Homo sapiens: one gene and its partner. The protein of the gene in region 1 interacts with the protein of each later gene in a pairwise test. Each region holds a gene or a part of one and is shown in the gene's direction. Other genes may lie near its edges. The genes, in order: ZNF705D and GUCD1.

Evidence for each region.
Region 2: the proteins of ZNF705D (region 1) and GUCD1 interact in binary tests that used the Homo sapiens proteins (3 or more experiments, as listed by UniProt).

The regions. Positions count from the first base shown.
Region 1 is NC_000008.11:12,082,887-12,094,160, forward strand, and holds the start of ZNF705D (zinc finger protein 705D), read left to right. Parts: upstream 1-6,451; 5' UTR 6,452-6,757; intron 6,758-11,274. UniProt on the Homo sapiens protein: May be involved in transcriptional regulation.
Region 2 is NC_000022.11:24,538,241-24,546,957, reverse strand, and holds the end of GUCD1 (protein GUCD1), read left to right. Parts: coding exon 1-44; intron 45-2,874; coding exon 2,875-3,116; intron 3,117-3,857; coding exon of another isoform or gene 3,858-3,860; coding exon 3,861-3,952; 3' UTR 3,953-6,520; downstream 6,521-8,717.

The DNA.
Region 1 (11,274 bases):
TATAAATATGTATGCACCTAATAAGAGAGCCCTGAAATACATATATGCTAATATAACTGAAGAGAGAATAGCTAAAAAGTATGGATATTCTGATACTCTAAATTTAATAATACAAAATAACTAGATAGAAGACCGGTAAGAAAATGGAAAACTTGAGCAACACTATAAACCAGTAGACTAACAGACATCTATACAACACTCCAATTAACAACAGGTGAATACATATTTTTTTCTTAAGTAAACACAAAACAGTCTCCAGAATAGTCCACGTTAGGCCATAAAATAAATCTCAGAAAATTTTAAAATATTAAAATCATACAAAATACTTTCTCCAATCACTGTGGGATGAAACTAAAAATCAGTAACAGAAAAAAAAAACTGAAAAATTCACAAATATGTGAGAATTAAACACCATACCCCTACATAACCAATGTGTCCAAGAAGAAATCACAAAGGGAATTGAAAAATACTTGGAGAAGAACGAAAATGAAAATACAATCAGGGATGCAGCAAAAGCTAAGCTCAGATAAAAATTTATAGATGTAAACCCTTACCTTAAAAAAGAATGAATAAAATAGATAGCTAACATTCGAAATTCAGAACCCAGGAAAAGAAGAACTAATTAAATTCACAGCAAGCAGGAAAAATAAAATAATAAATATTAGAGCAAAGTGAAATAGAGAATAACAAAACAGTAGAGAAATCAACAAAACCAAAAGTTGATTATTTGAAAAGATCGAGAAACTTGACTAACCTTTTGCTATACTGACCAAGGAAAAAAGGAAGAATACATAAATTACTAAAATTAAAAATAAAGGCCAGGCGCGGTGGATCACGCCTGTAATCCCAGCACTTTGGGAGGCTGAGGCAGGCAGATCACGAGATCAGGAGATCAAGACCATCCTGGTTAACATGGTGAAACCCCGTCTCTACTAAAAAAATACAAAAAATTAGCCGGGCGTGGTGGCGGGCGCCTGGAGTCCCAGCTACTTCGGAGGCTGATGCAGGAGAATGGCGTGAACCCAGGAGACAGAGCTTGCAGTGAGCGGAGATGGCGCCACTGCACTCCAGCCTGGGCAACAAAGCGAGACTCTGTCTCAAAAAAAAAAAAAAAAAAAAAAAAAAAAGAGTGGGGATACTACTACCCAACTTACATAGATAAAAGAAATTATAAGAGAACCCTATGAATAATTGTATGTCAACAAATTAGATACCCTAAATAAAATGATGGACAATTTCTACAAATAAACTACCAAAACTGAGTCAAGAAGAAATAAAAAATACAGATAGACATATAACAAGTGACGGTAGTGAGTCTGTGATCAAAAACTTCCAAAAATATAATCCAGGACCAGATGGCTGTACTAGTGAATTTAATCACGTTTAAAGAATAATGAAGGCTAAGCTTTCCTACAGTCTTTAAAAAATTATGACACATTTCCAAACTAATTTTATGTGACCAGTATTACCCTGATATGAAAGCAAGACAAAGACATTACCAGAAATGAAAACTAGTCCAGTATTCTTTATAAATAAAGATACAAAAATTCTTAACAAAATACTTTAAAATGGAATCTAGCAATACATTAGAAGGATTATACACCACAACCAAGTGCAATTTATTTTAAGAATTGGCTTGTGGGCGGTGGCTCAAGCCGGTAATCCCGGCACTTTGGGAGGCTAAGGCAGGCAGGTCACTTGAGGCCAGGAGTTCGAGACCAGCCTGGCCAACATGGCAATACTCCATCTCCACTAAAGATACAAATTTAGCTGGGCGCGGTGGCGCACGACTGTAATTTCAGCTACTCCGGTGGCTGAGGCAAGAGAATCGCTTGAACCCGAGAAGCAGAGGCTGCAGTGAGGTGAGATTGCACCACTGCCCTCCAGCCTGGGTGACACAGCAAGACCCTGTCTCAAAAAAAAAAAAAAAAGAAGAAAAAAAAGAAGTTTTTTTAAATCTGCAAAATCAATCAATATTAGTAGAATAAAGGGAAAAAAAGCCACAATCGTCTCAAAAGACATAAACAATTATTTGACAAAATCTAGTGTCCTTTCATGATGACACTCAAGAAATCATAAATCCAAGACAATTTTCTCACCCTGATAACGAGCATCGATAAGAAAAGTGTAGCTAACATCATACCTAATAGTGAAAGACTAAAAGGTTTTCTCCTAAAAACAGGAACAAGAAAAGAATGTCTGCCCTTGACACTTCCGTTCAACAATGTGCTGAAAGTTCTAGCAAAGGCAATTAGGCTAAGAAGAAACTAAAGGCATTCGGAGGAAAGGAAGAAGCATTATTATCTCCATTAAGCCATGAAATGATATTACATGTAGAATACTCAAAAGAATTCACAAAAATCTATTAGGGCTAATAAACAATTTCAACAAAGTTTGAAGATACTAGATCAATATGCAAAAATCAGCTGCATTTCTTTTCTGTAATAGGAATGAACAACTTGGAAGTTAAATGAAGAAAACAATGATACTTACAATAGCATAAAACATTAAATACATAGGAAATAGTGCAATGAAGGAAGTGTAAGACTTGTCCGCTGAGTCTACAAAATATTTTTGAAAGAAAAAGAAGACCCAAGTGAATGGAAAGATTTCTCATGCTCATGAGTTGGAAGATTTAATATAATTTAACTGAAAATACTTCCCAAATTGATTTACAGATTTAATGCAACCCCTATCAAAATTCTGTCTTTTTGCAGAAATTGACAAAAATTATTCTAAAATTTATATAGAAATGAAAAGACGATTAAATATCCAAAACAATTTTGAAATAGAAGAACAAAGTGGGAGCACTCAAATTTCTCAATTTCAAAACTTACCTCAAAGTCACAATAATCTGAACAGTGTGATAATGGTGTAAGAATAGACATATAGACTGATAAAATCAAATTTAAAGTTCAGAAATAAACCCATTCATCTACATGCAATTGATTTTCAACAAGGGTGCCAAGAGCATTTAATGAGGAACGAATAGTCTTCAACAAATGGTGCTGGGACAACTGGATATCCACATGTAAAAGGAAAAATTTGTCTACCTCATGCCATATATGAGAATTAATTCAAAACTGACCAAAGACCTTAATGTGATAACTAAAATTGTAAATGTTTAGGAAAAAATGGTACAAATATTTGTGACCTTAGATTAGGCAATGCTTTCTTAAATATGACACCAAAAACATAGCCACAAAAAATAGTTAAATTGGACTTCATTTAAGTTAAAAATTTGAGTGCATTAAAGGATACTGCCAAGGAAGGGGAAAAAAGCCCAATGAATATGAGAAAAATATTTGAAAATTGGATTAATATCCAGAATATATAAAGAACTACTACAAATCAGCAGCAGCAACAACGACAATAAAACACAAATGATCTAAGAAATGATCAAAAGATTTGAATAGTTTTTTGAAAAAGATATTTAAGTGGGCTATAAGCACATGAAAGGGAAATGAAAAAACCACAATGAGATACCATTTGATATCGAGTGGAATAACTATTATCAAGAAAGATGGAAAATAACAAGTGTTGTGGAAAATGTGGAGAAATTGGATTCTCATACATTTCTGATGGAAACATAAAATGGTGGAGGTAGTTTGAAAAACAGGTTGGCATTTCTTAAAGAATTAAAAATAGAGTCACCATATAACCCAGCAATTCTACTCTTAGGTATATACTTAAGAAAATAGTTTCTACCTAAGAGTTGAAAAATTCTCAATGAATTCTCATAGCAGCATTATTCATAATAGTAAAAAAACCTGAAATAACCCAAATGCCCATCAGCTGATAAATATATAAACACAATGTGGTATATTTATATAACACAGTATTATTTATTGATAGAAGGAATGAAATAGCTATATATCCTACAACTTGGATGACCTTGAAAAATTATGTTAAGTTATGGAAGGCAGACACAAATGGGTATATATTTTATAATTCCAGTTATGTACTGTCCAGAATAGTCAAATCTATAAAGATAGAAAACAAATTAGTAGTTTCTGGGGATTAGAGAAGGAGTTTCTTTTTGGGGTGATGGAAAGGTTTTGGAATCAAATAGTGGTGATGGCTGCACAACATTGTAAATATACTAACATCTATTAAATTAAACAAATCAAAATGGTTGAAATAGTGAATATTTCATTGTGTGAATATTATCTTAATAAAAATTGTTTTGATAAATACGATGTTTTGGAGTGTCCCTTTTTCTTTTTTTCTTAGAAGAGTTGGATATAATTACAATTTTTTAAATTTCTGAAATGTGGTTGAAAATATAAGTTAAGTGCCCTCTTTTTTGGAAGGTTATTGATTACAGAATTAGTTGCTTTATTAATTCAGGAAAACATTCTTATTTTCTGTTTCATCTTGAGTTAATTTTGTCAAGTTTCGTTAATGGTTTTGCATATTTAAAGATGCTTCCTTTTTTCCTGTTACTTTTATTTGTGCATTTTATTTTCTTTGTAATTCATACTGCAAAGACTGAGATGTTTCTGTTTTCTATTATTATTTTCTTCTGAGATCAGATGAGATCAGGAGTGTTCATGATGGTATTGCCAAAGACTCACCATTATTATTTTCTAATATTAGCAATTATGACCCTGAATTTCCTCTTTAATATTATACCAATGGAATCCAAAAAGTTTTAATAAGTAATATTTTAATTTCAATATATTTATTTTTTCACTAAGATTTTTTTCTTTAATTAACTGGGTTTTAGAACAGTTTCTTATAATTTCATATCAGTGTGATAAATGAACACTTTCTGTAGAGTGTCAGTTATTTGACTTTTGTTAAGATTTGGCATGTAGAACAAATCGTTATATGGTCAATATTTGTGCATATTCAATATGTCCTATTAAAACTGTATTCTGTAGTTGTTGAATGAAGTTATTTGTAATTATTTCCTTCACAAAAATAGTAAATTTTTATTAACATCCAATGTATTATTGATGTTTAAAGTCTTCTTTTTCTTTGAATGACTAAGAAAAATAAGTTATAATCTCCCACTATAGTTTGGAATTTTTTCATTTTTCCTTGTAGGTTGCTCAATTTTTGTTTTATAAATTTGATGCTATGTTATTAAAGTGCACATATTTTGATGTATATATTTTTCTGGTACCACACTGTTTTGGTGACTATGATCTTATAGCATACTTTGAAATCAGGTAGTGTGATGCCTCCAGATTTGTTCTTATTGCTTTGTCTTGCTTTGGATATGTGGGCTCTTTTTTTGTTCCATATGAATTTTAGAATTGTTTTTACTAACTCTGAAGAATGATGGTGGTGTTCTGATGACTCCATGGGGGTCATCCACGTTGTAGGATATATAGCTATTTCATTCCTTCTATCAATAAATAATACTGTATTATATAAATATACCACAATGTGTTTATATATTTATCAGCTGATGGGCATTTGGGTTATTTCAGCTTTTTTACTATTATGAATAACGCTGCTATAAGAATTCACTGAGAATTTTTCAACTCTTACGTACAAACTTTTTTCTTAAGTATATACCTAAGAGTGGAATTGCTGGGTTATATGCTAACTCTATTTTTAATTCTTTGAAAACTGCCAACCTGTTTTTCAAACTGCTTCCACCATTTTGGTGGTTTAAGGCTCTATTTTTTGTGCTGATGGGCCTCCTGCTGGGAGATGGCGCTTTCCAGAAAGCATCCGCTGTAGTAGTGTTGAGAGATGACAACATGCTAGCAACCCTCGCTTGCTCTCAGTGCCTCCTTGGCCTCGGCGTCCACTCTGGTTGCACTCGAGGAGCCCTTCAGCCCGCCACTGCACTGTGGGGGTCCCTCTCTGGGGCTGGTCAAGGCCGGAGCCGGCTCCCTCTGCTCGCAGGGTGTGGAGGGAGAGGCCGTGGTGGGAGCCGGGGCTGCGTGTGGCCCTTGTGGGCTGGCGCGGGTTCTGCGTGGGCGCGGGCTCGGTGGGCCCCACACTTGAGGCGGCTGGCCGGTGCCTGCTGGGCTTGACCGGGGGATGAGCTCTCTCTAGGCTGCTGGAGTGCCAGGGCTGGGTGCTGCAAAGTCCTGTCTGGCGAGTGCCATCAAGAGGTGAAGCCGGCTGGGCTTCTGGGCCCGCTGGGGACTTGGAGAACTTTTCTGTCTAGCTAAATGATTGTAAAAGCACCAATCAGCACTCTGTGTCTAGCTAAAACTTTGTAAATGCACCAATCAGCGCTCTGGGTCTAGCTAATCTGGTGGGGGACTTGAAGAACTTTTGTGTCCAGCTAAAGGATTTTAAATGCACCAATCAGCACTCTGTCTAGCTAAAGGTTTGTAAATACACCAGTCAGCACTCTGTCAAAACGGACCAATCAGCTCTCTGTAAAATGGACCAATCAGCAGGATATGGATGGGGGCCAGACAAGGGAATAAAAGCAGGCCACCGGAGCCCACAGCTCAACAGGCTTGGGTCCCCTTCCATTCTGTGGGAAGTTTGTTCTTTCGCTTTTTGCAACATAGCTTGCTGCTGCTCACTCTTTGGTTTCGTGCCGCCTTTAAGCGCTGTAACACTCACTGCGAAGGTCTGCAACTTCACTTCTGAGGCCAGCCAGACCATGAACCCACTGGGAGGAATAAGCAACTCTGGACACACCATCTTTAAGAATTGTTAACACTCACCAGGAGGGTCTGCGGCTTCATTCTTAAACTCAGCGAGACCAAGAACCCACCAATTCCGGACACTGTGGAGAGGGACCAGTGGTGGGCAGGGCTCCAGAACTCCAAAGATCGTATGTTCTTTGTCTTCTGCTACCAGGGTGGATATGGAAGGACCATCAGGTGGGGGTGGGGCTAGGCGTGCCTGAGCTCAGACTCTCCTTGGGTGGGTCTTGCTTTGGCTGCTGTGGGGGATGGAGGTGAGATTCCCAGGTCAGTGGAGTTGTGTACCTAGAAGGATTATGGCTGCCTCTGCTGAGTCATGCAGGTTGTCAGGGAAGTTGGGGAAAGCTAGCTTCCAGGCACGCTGAAAGGCGGGTCTCACTCCCACAATGCCCCTTGTGATAGCCCGGAGTCTGTTTCCAGGCCGAAGGCGAATCTGGCTTGAAAACTTACCTGAGGCTTTCTGCCTCCCGACTGACAAAGAAATGGGCTTCAGTTCTTACCCCGCCTGTGAAGTCTGCAAGCCTGATTCACGCCCTCCCCCGAGTTCTGGCCAGGAGGCTTCCAGCCCCATTCAATTTTTTACAAAGTTCAGCTAGAGAGGTTCTTCTCCCTGTGAAGTTTTACCCCCTGCTCCTCTGGCCACCCCCCCGATGGATGTCTGCCGTGCCAGGCAGGAATGGGCTACTTGGGGATCCAGCGGCCTTCCAGTGCCTTTGTGCTACTTCCTCTACTCCTGTATGTTGCTCAGCTCGGCTCTCTAACTTGACTCAGCTCCAGGTAAAGTCACGAACTTCTCCCACAAACAGACTTTCAGCTTCTCCAGTGGGGGTGTGTGTTCATGAGACGAGGGTCTCCCTTTCCCATTTCCGTGGTTAGGGGACTTAAAGTATTTGGGGTGTCTCCCAGGTCCTGCAAGAGCAGTCTGCTTCCTTCGGAGGGTCTGTGGGTCCTGTCAGGATTGCTGGTCTGCTCTTGCAGTCCATCTGGAGCTAAAATTCACAACGCAAGCCTCCGCATGCTGCTCTGTCCAGAGCTGCCATCTAGTTCTGCCTCCTGTCTGTCATAATCCCTCATGACCCTTGAGCTTTTTTTTTCATATGATTGTTGGCAGCATGTATGTCTTCTTTTGAGAAGCGTCTGATCATGTTTTTGCCTATTTTTAAAGGTTTTTTTTTTTTGTAAATTTCTTTAAGTTCCTTGTAGATGCTGTATATTGGATCTTTGTCGAATGCATAGCTTGCAAAAGTTTTCTCCCATTCTGCAGGTTGTCTTTTTGCTCTGTTAATAGTTTCTTTTGCTGCCCAGAAGCTCCTTAGTTTAATTACATCCCATTCGTCAATTTTTGCTTTTGTCACAATTGCTTTTGGTGTCATTGTTATAAAATTTTCGCCCGTGCCTATGTCCTGAATGGTATTGCCTAGGTTGTCTTCCAGGGTTTTTATAGTTTTGTGTTTCACACTTAAGTCTTTAATCCATTTAATCCTGCATATGAAGACCGATCTTTATGTTTAGAAATTCTTTCATCTTCTTAATCTAGTCTATTGTTGAGGTTCTCAAATTGTATTATTTATTTTATTTATTGAATTATTCAATTTCAGCTGTTAAATTCCTTTTCACTCATTTTATGGATTTGTTTGATTGAAATCTGTTGCTGGAGAATTATTGGTTTTCCTTCAGGGATGCTATGTTTCCTTGCTCTTTAATGTTTCTTATGTCCTTACATTGATATTTGAATATCTGGTAAAACAGTTGCTTCTTCTAATTTTATAGATTGGCTTTGGTAGTAAAAGACTGACTTCTGTAGCTGTATCTATACTGTTGAATCAGTAAGACACTTTGCCTTTAGTTCTGAGTTGGTTCAGTAGTTTATACTTCTATGATTTCTTCAGCTATAATCAGCATCACTGATGTCTGTGAGCTCCTCAGTGTCTTAGCCTTCATTGTTAATGGAGGCTGTGGTGAGATTTTGCTGGGGAAAGACAGGCCAGGCAGTTTGGTCCTTGGGCACCAGTTGCATTGGTCTTTGAACTTGTGGGTGATGAACGTGGGCACCAGTGGTTGAAGTTTCAGGCAGGCCATCCTTGGGCCTTCAGGTGGCTTTTTTTTTTTTTTTTGAGATGAAGTTTTGCTCTGTTGCCCAGGCTGGTGTGCAATGGTGTGTTCTCAGCTCACTGCAACCTCCGCCTCCCAGGTTCAAGCAATTCTCCTGCCTCAGCCTCCCGAGTAGCTGGGATTACAGGCATGCACCTCCATGCCCGGCTAATTTTGTATTTTTTTTTTTTTGTTTTTTTTTTTTAGTAGAGATGGAGTTTCTCCATGTTGGTCAGGCTGGTCTTGAACTCCCGACCTCAGGTGATCTGCCCCCTTCAGCCTTCCAAAGTGCTGGGATTACAGGCGTGAGTCAGGTGGCTTTCTCAAGTGCCAGCAGTGACAGTGGTGAGCTAGGGAGATAGGCATGCCCTCAAGACCCTGTGCTGTAGTCATAGCAGGTCAACTCTTGTGACCCCAGATGGCATGTGCAGACACCAACAGTCGTGGCAACATGATGGACAGAGTAGTCCTCAGGCTTTCACCTGGTGCAAATATGTGGGCATTGGTGGCAGCCGTGATGGCAGGCTGGGAAGTCCTATCCTTAGGCTCTCAGGAGACACACAGGTACTTGATGGTGATAGGCATGGTGGATTAATCCCCAGGCTCCCAGACAATGTGCACAGGCACCACCAGGCTGGGTGGGCTCATACTTAGGTCACAAGAAGGCATGCACAGGTGCCAATGACAGACAGCAGTGTGGGTTGATCCCCAGCGTCCTGGACAACGACCTTGGGTAGTGGTAGTGACAGCAATGGGTGGGATGGGCCTGTGCTCTGGCCCTGGAATAGTGCTCAGGCAGGTGAGTCCCCAGGTCCCCTGAGGATGCCTGCAGGTGTGCAGTGGCCCTGCTCCTGGGGGTCAGGATTGCTGTCAGTGTCAGTGGTCCTGGGAAGGTGACTCTCCACTTGTGAAGAGTGCCTGCTTCAGCTCCCTTTGTTCTGGGGGCAGCCTCTCTAGTGAATGGCACTGCCAGTTCCCTGGAGTGTAGGACACTGTGTAGGCTAGAGTGATGGGGACCAAGCTACACTGGTGAGTTCAGCTGGTATTGTGACTCTGCAGGCCTCTGGATGGACATGAGGGAATGTCACTGAGGGTCCAGAGATGTGGAGATGCAGGGGCTGTTGGGCCCCAGGGCAGGATGTAGTCTTTTGGGGGCTGGGCTCTCAAATTGGCATTGTGCCACAGCTGCCTGTGTCTGGGGGCAGGTGCAGATGATCCAGTGCCAACTCCTTCTCTGGGACAATGACCATCACATACACTCCAGGCAGCTCCCTATAGTAGTCTCAGGGCCTGCGAGGGCTGAGAGACCGTCCCTTGGCTAGGATTGCAGTGTCCACAGTGGGAATATGGACCACTGGGGCTCTCTTTTTTACCTTTTCACCACACTGCAGAGCCTGTCCTGGCTTTAAGCTGATTCTGGCTGGGCTGCTGCTTCATTTTCCTTTCCTTCCATGCCTCAGAGATTCCTCGTCACTTTGCTGCTGAATTCTAGTGCCCTCTTTCATGCCCTCTTCAAGGTATGATTATCTACTTGCTGTTTTGGTCTTTCTTTGGGAGGACACAGTGCCTGGTACCTCTAGTCAGCCATCTTGAAGGCCACCTCCTAGCAATGAGAAGATAATATTCTAGGTGACGGCTTTAATATACGTGTCCAAACTGCTTCTTTTCTAGGGAAGCACTTACTCTAAGAAATAAATGTTATATAGTGCAAAAATATATTAAAGGGTCAGTTGGTGATGCGGTTTCAAGAGTGGCACTGAGGAAAACTTGGCACTTCCACAGGGTTGAGTTGGTTGGAATATATCTCAATCTCTGAGATTTTGAACCCAATGTTTTGAACTTTTTGAGATTTCGAGTAGTCCATGTGACATAACTTAACATTGTTTCTTGGCCAAATCAGTCATAGTGAAAAATAAAATCCAGCTAATATACTTTTAAATATCTTGATTCTATACTCTTTCAATGACCAAGGGGAGGCCCCTCACTACTTTACACAAAAAAGAAAACTCTATGAATGAGAATCTCTTCACACAAAGCCACTAAAATTGTGTCTAAATGGAGCAAAATTGTGACAGGTGGTAAAAGCACTCAGTGGCTGTTGTAGGCAGAATAATGTCCCCTCTGTCTCCTGCCAAAGCTATCCACATCCTAACTCCTGGGTCCTGTGAATGTGCCACCTTGTAAGGCAAAGGGGAATTGAGGTTTCATGTGAAATTAAGGCTGTTAATCAGCTGACCTTAAAATAGGGAGATTATCTTAGATTATCCAGGTGGGCCCAACGTAATCATGAGTCCTAAAAAATGGAAGAGTGGGGAGAAGATGAATTCAGAATGATGGAATGTGAGGACTCAATGCTCCATTGCTGGCTTTGAAAATGGATGAAGGAAGCTATGGTTCCCAGGAGTAGCCTGTCATTGCTGGGATAAAGGTGCAGGAAGAAAACTGCAGAGCTTCCAGAAGAAAGCTCAGCCCTGCTGACACCTTGATGTTGGCCCACAGAGATCCATCTGAAACCTGCAGCCTATAGAACTGTCAGATAATGCATTTGTGTTGC
Region 2 (8,717 bases), on another chromosome or scaffold:
CTGTTTGCACAAGCAAAGGCCTGCAAGGTGCTGGTGGAGAAATGGTGAGCCCCCCAACTTTCCTACCTGCCCTTCCTCTCATGCCTGCTCACCCACAGATCTGCAGTGGGGAGGCCTCGGGATGGTGTTCAGGAAAGGCTAGGACTCTGGAGCCAGGCAGAACTGGCTACCCGGGTGGCTGTGGGCACTGACTTGCCCCCTTGAGCCTTGGTTTATGGAGCTCACTGGGGCTACATGACCCAGGCTCTGACCAGGGGTGGATCCTGAGCAGGTGCTGGAGGGATAGGTGAGTGAGAGAGATTGCACCCAGCCCTTGGGCTACTTGCAGAAAGACAGCATGGGACAGAACACAAGGCCCCTAATGAAAGGGCGATGGCCTAAGAGGAATGTGCTGGTGCAGTGATTGACAAGGGATGGGGAACAGGGAGGACCCAGTGTGTAAGGGCTGCTGTGACCTTACAAGGGCCTCCTCTTCTCATCTGTATGCATTGGGGCTGGATTCAGGAAGACTCTGGGTGCAGTTTGCCCAGATGTGGGTCACATTCTTTTCTGGGCTACGTGGGAGTGGGGCTCAGACCTGCTGCCTCTAGGTCCTGGACAGGCTCTTCTCAGATTTTCCCTTTCTTTGCGGATTTATATTTTCATTATTGACGTAGTATAATCACATGATAGGTGATTTAGAAAATGGGGGTTTGGGGGCCGGGCGCGGTGGCTCACGCCTGTAATCCCAGCACTTTGGGAGGCTGAGGTGGGCGGATCACGAGGTCAGGAGATCGAGACCATCCTGGCTAACACGGTGAAACCTTGTCTCTACTAAAAATACAAAAAATTAGTCGGGCGTGGTGGCAGGCGCCTGTAGTCCCAGCTACTCGGGAGGCTGAGGCAGGAGAATGGCCTGAACCCAGGAGGCGGAGCTTGCAGTGAGCCGAGATAGTGCCACTGCACTCCGGCCTGGGGGACAGAGCGAGACTCTGTCTGAATCTGCCCTCAAGGAAACAGAAAGGCAAATCCAGGATGTGGGACATTTTCCAAGAGTACTGCCCCGGGCTTTAAAAATCAACAAAACAGGCCGGGCACGGTGGCTCACGCTTGTAATCCCAGCACTTTGGGAGGCCGAGGCGGGCGGATCACGAGGTTAGGAGATCGAGATCATGGTGAAACCCCGTCTCTACTAAAAATACAAAAAATTAGCTGGGCGCAGTGGCGGGTGCCTGTAGTCCCAGCTACTCGGGAGGCTGAGGCAGGAGAATGGCATGAACCCAGGAGGCGGAGCTTGCAGTGAGCCGAGATCGCGCCACTGCACTCCAGCCTGGGCAACAGAGACAGACTCTGTCTCAAAAAAAAAAAGAATATAGTGGGGTGGGATCTCCATTCATACTATGACCACATGGGCACATGTTGGAAGGAAAGGCAGCAAATGTTTATTTAGCAGCCCTCAACAGGTGCTGTCTCCTTGAGTGGGAAAGCTGTTGCTATCTCTGCTTCTCGGGGGAGGAAACTGAGGAGGAGAGAGACACCCAAGGTCACCCCCAGCATCTTGGCCATGCCATGATCTGAACCCATGCTTGTTATTCCTTGAAGCCTGTAGTTTTTCCTTCCAGCCAAGCCCCTGCTTTTTCCCTATAGCTGAAATCCCACTCCTGTGCACTGCCACTGGGAACTCAGCCAGCTATTTTGTTTCAAAGACCAAATGGAAAAATGGCATGTTTCCTTGGCCAAGGCAGCAATCCAAACTGCCACGTGACTCAGCTGTGGCTGAAGCTGGGTCAGGCCACATGGTACTGATGCTGCCACTCCTAAGGAAGGCCCCAAGTGGGTGAGCAGCCCCTCCAGCAAAGATGCAGGAGCCCCTGGCCTAGAGCTCCCCCTGCCCACAGCCCCATCTGCCCTCTGTCCCTCTGGGTGTTTTCTTTTCTTTTCTTTTTTTTTTTTTTAAGAGACAGGGTCTTAATCTGTCATACAGGCTGTAGTGCTGTGGCGCAATATTGCAATACAGCTCACTGCTACAGCCCCAGGCTTAAGTGATCTTCTTGCCTCAGTCTCCCGAGTAGCTGGAACCACAATCTCATACCACCACGCCCCACGCCTGGTAAATTTTTAAATGTTTTTGTAAAGACAGGGTACTGCTGTGTTGCCCAGGCTGGTCTCTAATTCCTAGTCTCAAGCGATCCTTCCGCTTTGGCCTCCCAAAGCACTGGGATTACAGGTGTGAGCCACTGTGCCCAGCCCTGCTCTAGGTTTTCATTTGGATTTGCTGCCTAGTGGAAGGCACAGGATGGGGCAGTGCCTTCTGCCAGTGAGGGAGGCTCCAGGTAGATGTCATTGCTGAACTGGAGCTCCCCTGGAAGCAATGTGGCCCAGCCCTTCCTGGGCAGCCCCTTCTGCCACCAGGAGCCTTAGAAAAAAAGTAAAATAGCTCTTTCAGAGAAGCATTTGGTTTTGAAAGTGTCTGAGCCATGCTTGGCTGGCAGTTTTCAATGTAAACCACACATGATTTAGGGTAGAGGAGAGACAGGGCTGGGCAAAAAGAATTCACTAACCAGGCTGGGGTGCAGTAGGAGGATGGTTTCTGTGTGCTGCTCTAGTGGCCCTTGACTGGACCCACCTGGAGCTGAATGCTCTCCCCGTGAAGGGCCTGACAGAGCCAGCTCATCTTTGTGCACATTCAGACACACACACACACCCCCCCCACCGGTCTCCTGCTTGGCTCTAGGCTGAGCCTGGGCCACAGTGACAGAGCAGGGAGTTCAGGGCAAAGGGAAAAGGAGCCGATCCCCAAGCTTTGTAACAGAGAAACAGGCACAAGCAGGGATCCATTTGAGGGATGGGGAATGGGGGCCCAGCAGCACCAGCTGACCCCCCTCCCGCCCACAGCACAGTGAGTGTGAAGGACATCCAGGCGCACCTGGCTCAGGGCCATGTGGCCATCGTGCTGGTGAACTCGGGGGTGCTGCACTGTGACCTGTGCTCCAGCCCTGTCAAGTACTGCTGCTTCACCCCCAGTGGCCACCACTGCTTCTGCCGCACTCCTGACTACCAGGGCCACTTCATCGTGCTGCGTGGCTACAACCGGGCCACTGGCTGCATCTTCTACAACAACCCAGCCTATGCCGACCGTGAGTGCTGGGTGGGGTGGGTGAGGCAGAGTGGTCCACATTCACTGTTCTGTATGCCCAGTGCCCACAGTTCCCACCCATTCAATCTAGTGTGGCCAGGGCCTCCCTCCCTACCTTTTCCCCAAAGCCCCTGCTCCTCCTGGGCTCTTGTCACTGTGGCCACCCCTCAGGCCATGCAGGCAAACCTGCCGCAAACTGTGCCAGCCTCCTCTACACCCTGGCCACCCCTCCCTCTCACACCACAGGCCCCACGCCACTGCCCAGGTCCCTGCCTTACCCTTTCATGCTGCCCAGGCTGCACCCCTCCCCCAACCACCAGGATGGCCGGCACATTCCTCAGAAAGAAAAGCCCGGCCAGACCCAGCCCCTGCTCTAGACCCATCCTGGCCTGCCTACTGCCCTCCGGGCACAGGGAAGGGCTGCCCTGACTCTCATAGACTGGATTCACATAGACAGCCCCTGGACGCCCTGACCACATAGACTTACCCCGTCTATGTGGCCTGGAGCACGTTTCTGCCCCTCTCTGGGCCTTTCTCCAACTGCTTTACTGGGGAGGAGTCAGAGAAACCTCATGAAGACCAGGATGGGCAAGGAGGGCTTCCTGGGGGTGGAGGACTTGAGTTGAGAGGAATGGCCATGTGGATGGGAAACAGACCTCACTCAGCTCCCCTGGGCACTGTGTCGGTGGTGTAGGTGCTCTCTCACAACCCACTGACCCCGTTCTGCCTTCCCCACCCCCAGCAGGAATGTGCAGCACCAGCATCAGTAACTTTGAGGAGGCCAGAACCAGCTATGGCACAGATGAGGACATCCTCTTTGTCTACTTGGACAGCTGACAGCAGGAGCCTGGTGCGCCTAGGCCCTCGGACCCCATCCCCACCCCAGCCGGGCCCGCTCAGGATGCCCTGGCCCAGGCTTGGGGCTGCTGGGGTTGGAATGTGGAACTGCAGCCTCAGCCCATCTGGCAGAGTCCCAGGAACTCGGAGACTGGCACAGCTGCTTTGTCTGCCAGTGCCGTGTGTTGTCATGTCACTCACCCCAAGCACCTGCTGGCTGCTGGAAGCATACCCCAAGACCCCAAGCCTTGACTCCAGCTGCGCCCACAGGAAGTCCAGTCCCGACAGTGCCCTTGTTGCCTTTGAGCCAGATCCATGGCAATGGTCTCCCCACAGACCGCAGGACTGAGCCTGGAGAGAGAAGTTGCTTGACGGATGCCACTTGTCAGGACAGTATGTGAGTGTCTGGAGACAGCATAGCTGACCCCAATCCCCCAGGGCTGAGGACCCCTCCAGGCCCCTCTCTCCTGGAAGTGCTGCATATGCCCCTGTGCCCAGTGGTTGATGATACCACCACCACCTGCCTACCCATGGGCCCAAGTTTCTGTGGCTCATTACAGGGCATCTGACCCCTGCCACCCAGCATAGACACACCTCACAGCTGCCCTGCCATGCAGAGCCCTGGCCGCTGGAGACTCTTAAAGCCCCCACAGCCCTCCAGGTCCTCCAGCTCTGTCAGATGGAGGGCTCTCGGGCCTAGATCCCACTGGTAGGCCTCGTGGCTGGCAGCAGTGCTCTGGGAATAAACAGCTGCCCTAGCCCCAGAGGGATCCCTGCACCCAGGAGGCCTCCTGACACCAGCCAAAATCCTGACAGCAGGGTCTGCCCTCTTGAGTGTGGGGAGCCCCTAGTCCTTTAAGGTTGGCTGCTAAGGCCTGTGCTCCAAAGCAACGGGCTGGGGCAGCCTGCAGCTGCCCACCCAACCTGGTCTTCACACCAGATTGCACAGGATACTGGGTCTTGTCTATCTTGATGGAGAAGAGGGGTTCCTGCCCAGGATCTTACAACACAGCAAGTAGCATAGAGCTCTTTCCTTCCTCTTTTTTGGGGAGGTTGGGGTCAGGGGTTGTTTCTTTGAGATTTAAGTTTTCATTTTTGAGGGGTAATCACCTTCAAGTAAAACAGTAATAGCAAGAGTGAAGGTACTTTGGAACCACTAACACCTCTGCACAGGGCAGTTAGCCAGCTCAAGTTCTTTTTCAGAGAAAGGGACTTGGCCAGTGGTTTAAGTACCTGCCCCTTCACCTCTCAGACGAGGCAGCTGACGAGGCAGCTGGCCCAGTCTTGGGAGTCTGCTCAGGACAGTGGTGGAGCTGGGTCTTGAACCCCAGTCTGCACCTAAAAAACTAAAGGAAATGGATTTTTTTTTTTTTTTTTGAGACGGAGACTCACTCTGTTGCCCAGACTGGAGTGCAGTGGCACGATCTTGGCTTACTACAACCTCCGCCTCCTGGGTTCAAGCGATCCTCCTGCCTCAGCCCCCCACTAGCTGGGACTACAGGCACATGCCACCATGCCCGGCTAATTTTTTTGTATTTTTAGTAGAGACCAGGCTTCGCCATGTTGGCCAGGCTGGTCTCGAACCCCTGAGCTCAGGTGATCCACCTGCCTCGGCCTCCCAAAGTGGGAAATGGGTCATTTTCAAAGGGGCAACAGTGATACCATCCCTGCACTCCTGGGTCCTGCTCTTCCAATGCCCAAGGCATGGCATGGTGGCAGCTGTGCCCCCGCCCATTGCTTTGGAGCACAGATGACTCTGGGGGCAGAGGTGGGCTCTGTTTAGGAGGGCAGTGAGACCACCCAGCCAAATTGCTTCTCAACCCTAGACAAAGCCTTTGGCCAAGAGGGAGGTGCTGTTAGTTGGGCAGCCCTTCTGGGTTTCAGAGACCGGTGTTGGCTCTAGACTGGTCTCATCTCCATTGCCTTAATGCCAGGTGGCCCAGGAGTACCCATGCACAGCAGCTGTGGGGTGTGGGCATCTTCAGGTGGTGTTCTGGTAAAATTGTTAGAATAGCTGTATGAAGGAAACCAGTGGGAGGAAATGAAGTTTTCAGGATGGTGGGATGTGATTTAGACAGTGCACATGCTGTTAGGGCTGTCACTAGGGAGTGGCCTTCATGGAGGGTGGTAACAGCACCTCAGTCCAGCCAAAATGTTTAGAAACACTCAGTCTCTGGTCCCAGAGGATGGCTTCTCAGGGCATGCCACAAGTTAAAGGTCACCTTCCTGAAAGATGAATGAGAAAGCTGCCCATTCTCAAGACTCATCTGCCTAGGGAGGGTCACAGAGGCAGGATGTAAGACACACTGTGTTGCATTCTTGCACAAGTCATGAAAATGGAGCCAGAGAGCCTGGACATCAGGGACTTTTGCCCACAGCACATGACACCGACAGCTGCCCAGCCTGTTCACATGCTGGGGACCAGCACAGCACCTGAAGCCATGTGGGACAGTTGGGCTTTGTTCATTCTAGCCACGGGGATGAAAGGGATCTTTTGCATTGCAGAGATTTTATATATATTTTGTTTGTAATGAGCCATTCTCAATAAACATTATTCTCACTGCAAAATGGTGGTAGCCCCTGGCTGGCCTTTATGAAGCTGTGTTGATCTGCAGAATTCCTGTCCCTTCTCAAGTTCTCAGCATGAGCACATGGGAACCCAGGTCCTTGTCTTGCCATACCCAGTTTAGCTGGGACTGGAATCCTGTTTTCTGTTTTCTAGGGCCATATCCATCCCGTTCAGGCCTGGATGCTTGTGCCTGTCCTGGACAGGCAGTACTAGAGGTAGAAGGGCCTCGGGGCTCAGCTCAAGTGAACTGCAACAAATGCAACTACAGGAGACACAACAGAATGAGGGAGATGTTGAAGCAGGAGAGACGAAAGTGGGTGGGATGGTGAGTGCTGGGTGGAGCTGGCTGCTCAGAGCATGCAGAGTTGGGGTTGAGGTAGACAGACCAAGAGTGCAGTAGTGCGATCTCGGCTCACTCCAACCTCCACCTCCTGGGTTGAAGCAATTCTCCTGCCTCAGTCTCCTGAGTAGCTGGGATTACAGGCACACACGACCACGCCCGGCTAATTTTTGTATTCTTAGTAGACACAGGTTTTACCATGATGTTGGCCAGGCTGCTCTCGAACTCCCAGCCTCAAGTGATCTGCCTGCCTCAGTCTCCCAAAGTGCTGGGATTACAGGCATGAGCCACTGTGCCTGGCCAATGTCATCACTTTTAAAGAAGCACTTCTGTTCCTTCCCATCCTCCCTCAAACACATCATCTTGTCTGTCTCCACTGCTATAGCCCCAGTATCTGACACCTAGTAGATGTTCAGTAAATGTGAGTGAACGGATAGTAGGCTAAAACAATACCTGTTTCAGCAGCTTTCCTGTACTTTTCAGAACTAAAAGTAATCATTAAAGGGGAGGCAGAAGGCCGGGCACGGTGGCTCATGCCTGTAATCCCAGCACTTTGGGAGGCCAAGGCGGGCAGATCACCTGAGGTTGGGAGTTCGTGACCAGCCTGACCAACATGGAGAAACCCTATCTCTACTAAAAATACAAAATTAGCTGGGCATGGTGGCACATGCCTGTAATCCCAGCTACTCAGGAGGCTGAGGCAGGAGAATTGCTTGAACCCGGGAGGTGGAGGTTGTGGTGAGCTGAGATCACATCATTGCACTCCAGCCTGGGCAACAAGAGCAAAACTCTGTCTCAAAAAATTAATAATAATAATAAAGGGGAGGCAGAACTTGAATCCTTTGATGTCACCCAGGATTCAGGAGACACTCTCTCCTACAAGGAATGGTGGAAGGAGCAAGATGTACTGCCCATTAGAAAAGCTTCAAGTGACCAGGTGTAGTGGTTCACGCCGGTAATCCTAGCACTTTGGGAAGCAAAGGCTGGAGGATCACTTGAGGCTAGAAGTTCAAGACTTGTGTGGGGCCGGGCACAGTGGCTCATGCCTGTAATCCTAGCACTTTGAGAGGCTGAGGTAGGTGGATCATTTGAGCCCAGGAGTTTGAGACTAGCCTGGGCAGCATGGCAAAATCTTGCCTCTACAAAAAATTAGCCGGGCATGGTGGCACGTGCCTGTGGTCCCAGCTGTTCAGGAAGCTGAGGTGACAGGACCTCCTGAGCCCAGGAGGTCAAGGCTGCAGTGAGCTGTGATTGTGCCACTGTACTCCAGCCTGGGCAACAGGACAAGACCCTGTCTCAAACAAACAAAAAATGGCCAGGCATGGTGACTAACACCTGTAATCCCAACCTTGGAAGGTAATCCCAACCTTGGTAGGCAGATCACTTGAGCTCAGAAGTTTGAGCCTAGTCTGGGCAACATGGTGAAAGCTCATCTCCACCAAAAATACAAAAAATTAGCCAGGCATGGTGGTGCACACCTGTGGTCCCAGCTACTCGGGAAGCTGAGGTGTGAAGATGCTTGAGCCCGGGAGGTCGAGGCTGCAGTGAGCCATGATTAAACGACTGCACTCCAGCCTAGGTAACAGAGTGAGACCTTTTCACTTAAAACAAACAAACAAACAAAAAAAAACGAAAAACACTTTTTTAAAAAAAAGGCTTCATGTTATTTAAACTTAGGATTCCCCTCATGACAGGTTTCTGCAAGTGCAGGTGTCCCCTGGCCTCCAATCCCCCTGGATGGAGAATCAGTGCAAGAAAATTCTGGCACTCTGGCTTTACGTCTAGTCTGAGTCAGCGAAGAACAAAATCCCTGGGGCCTCAACCAGAAAGCAATGTGGCTATGGAGTCAAGGGATC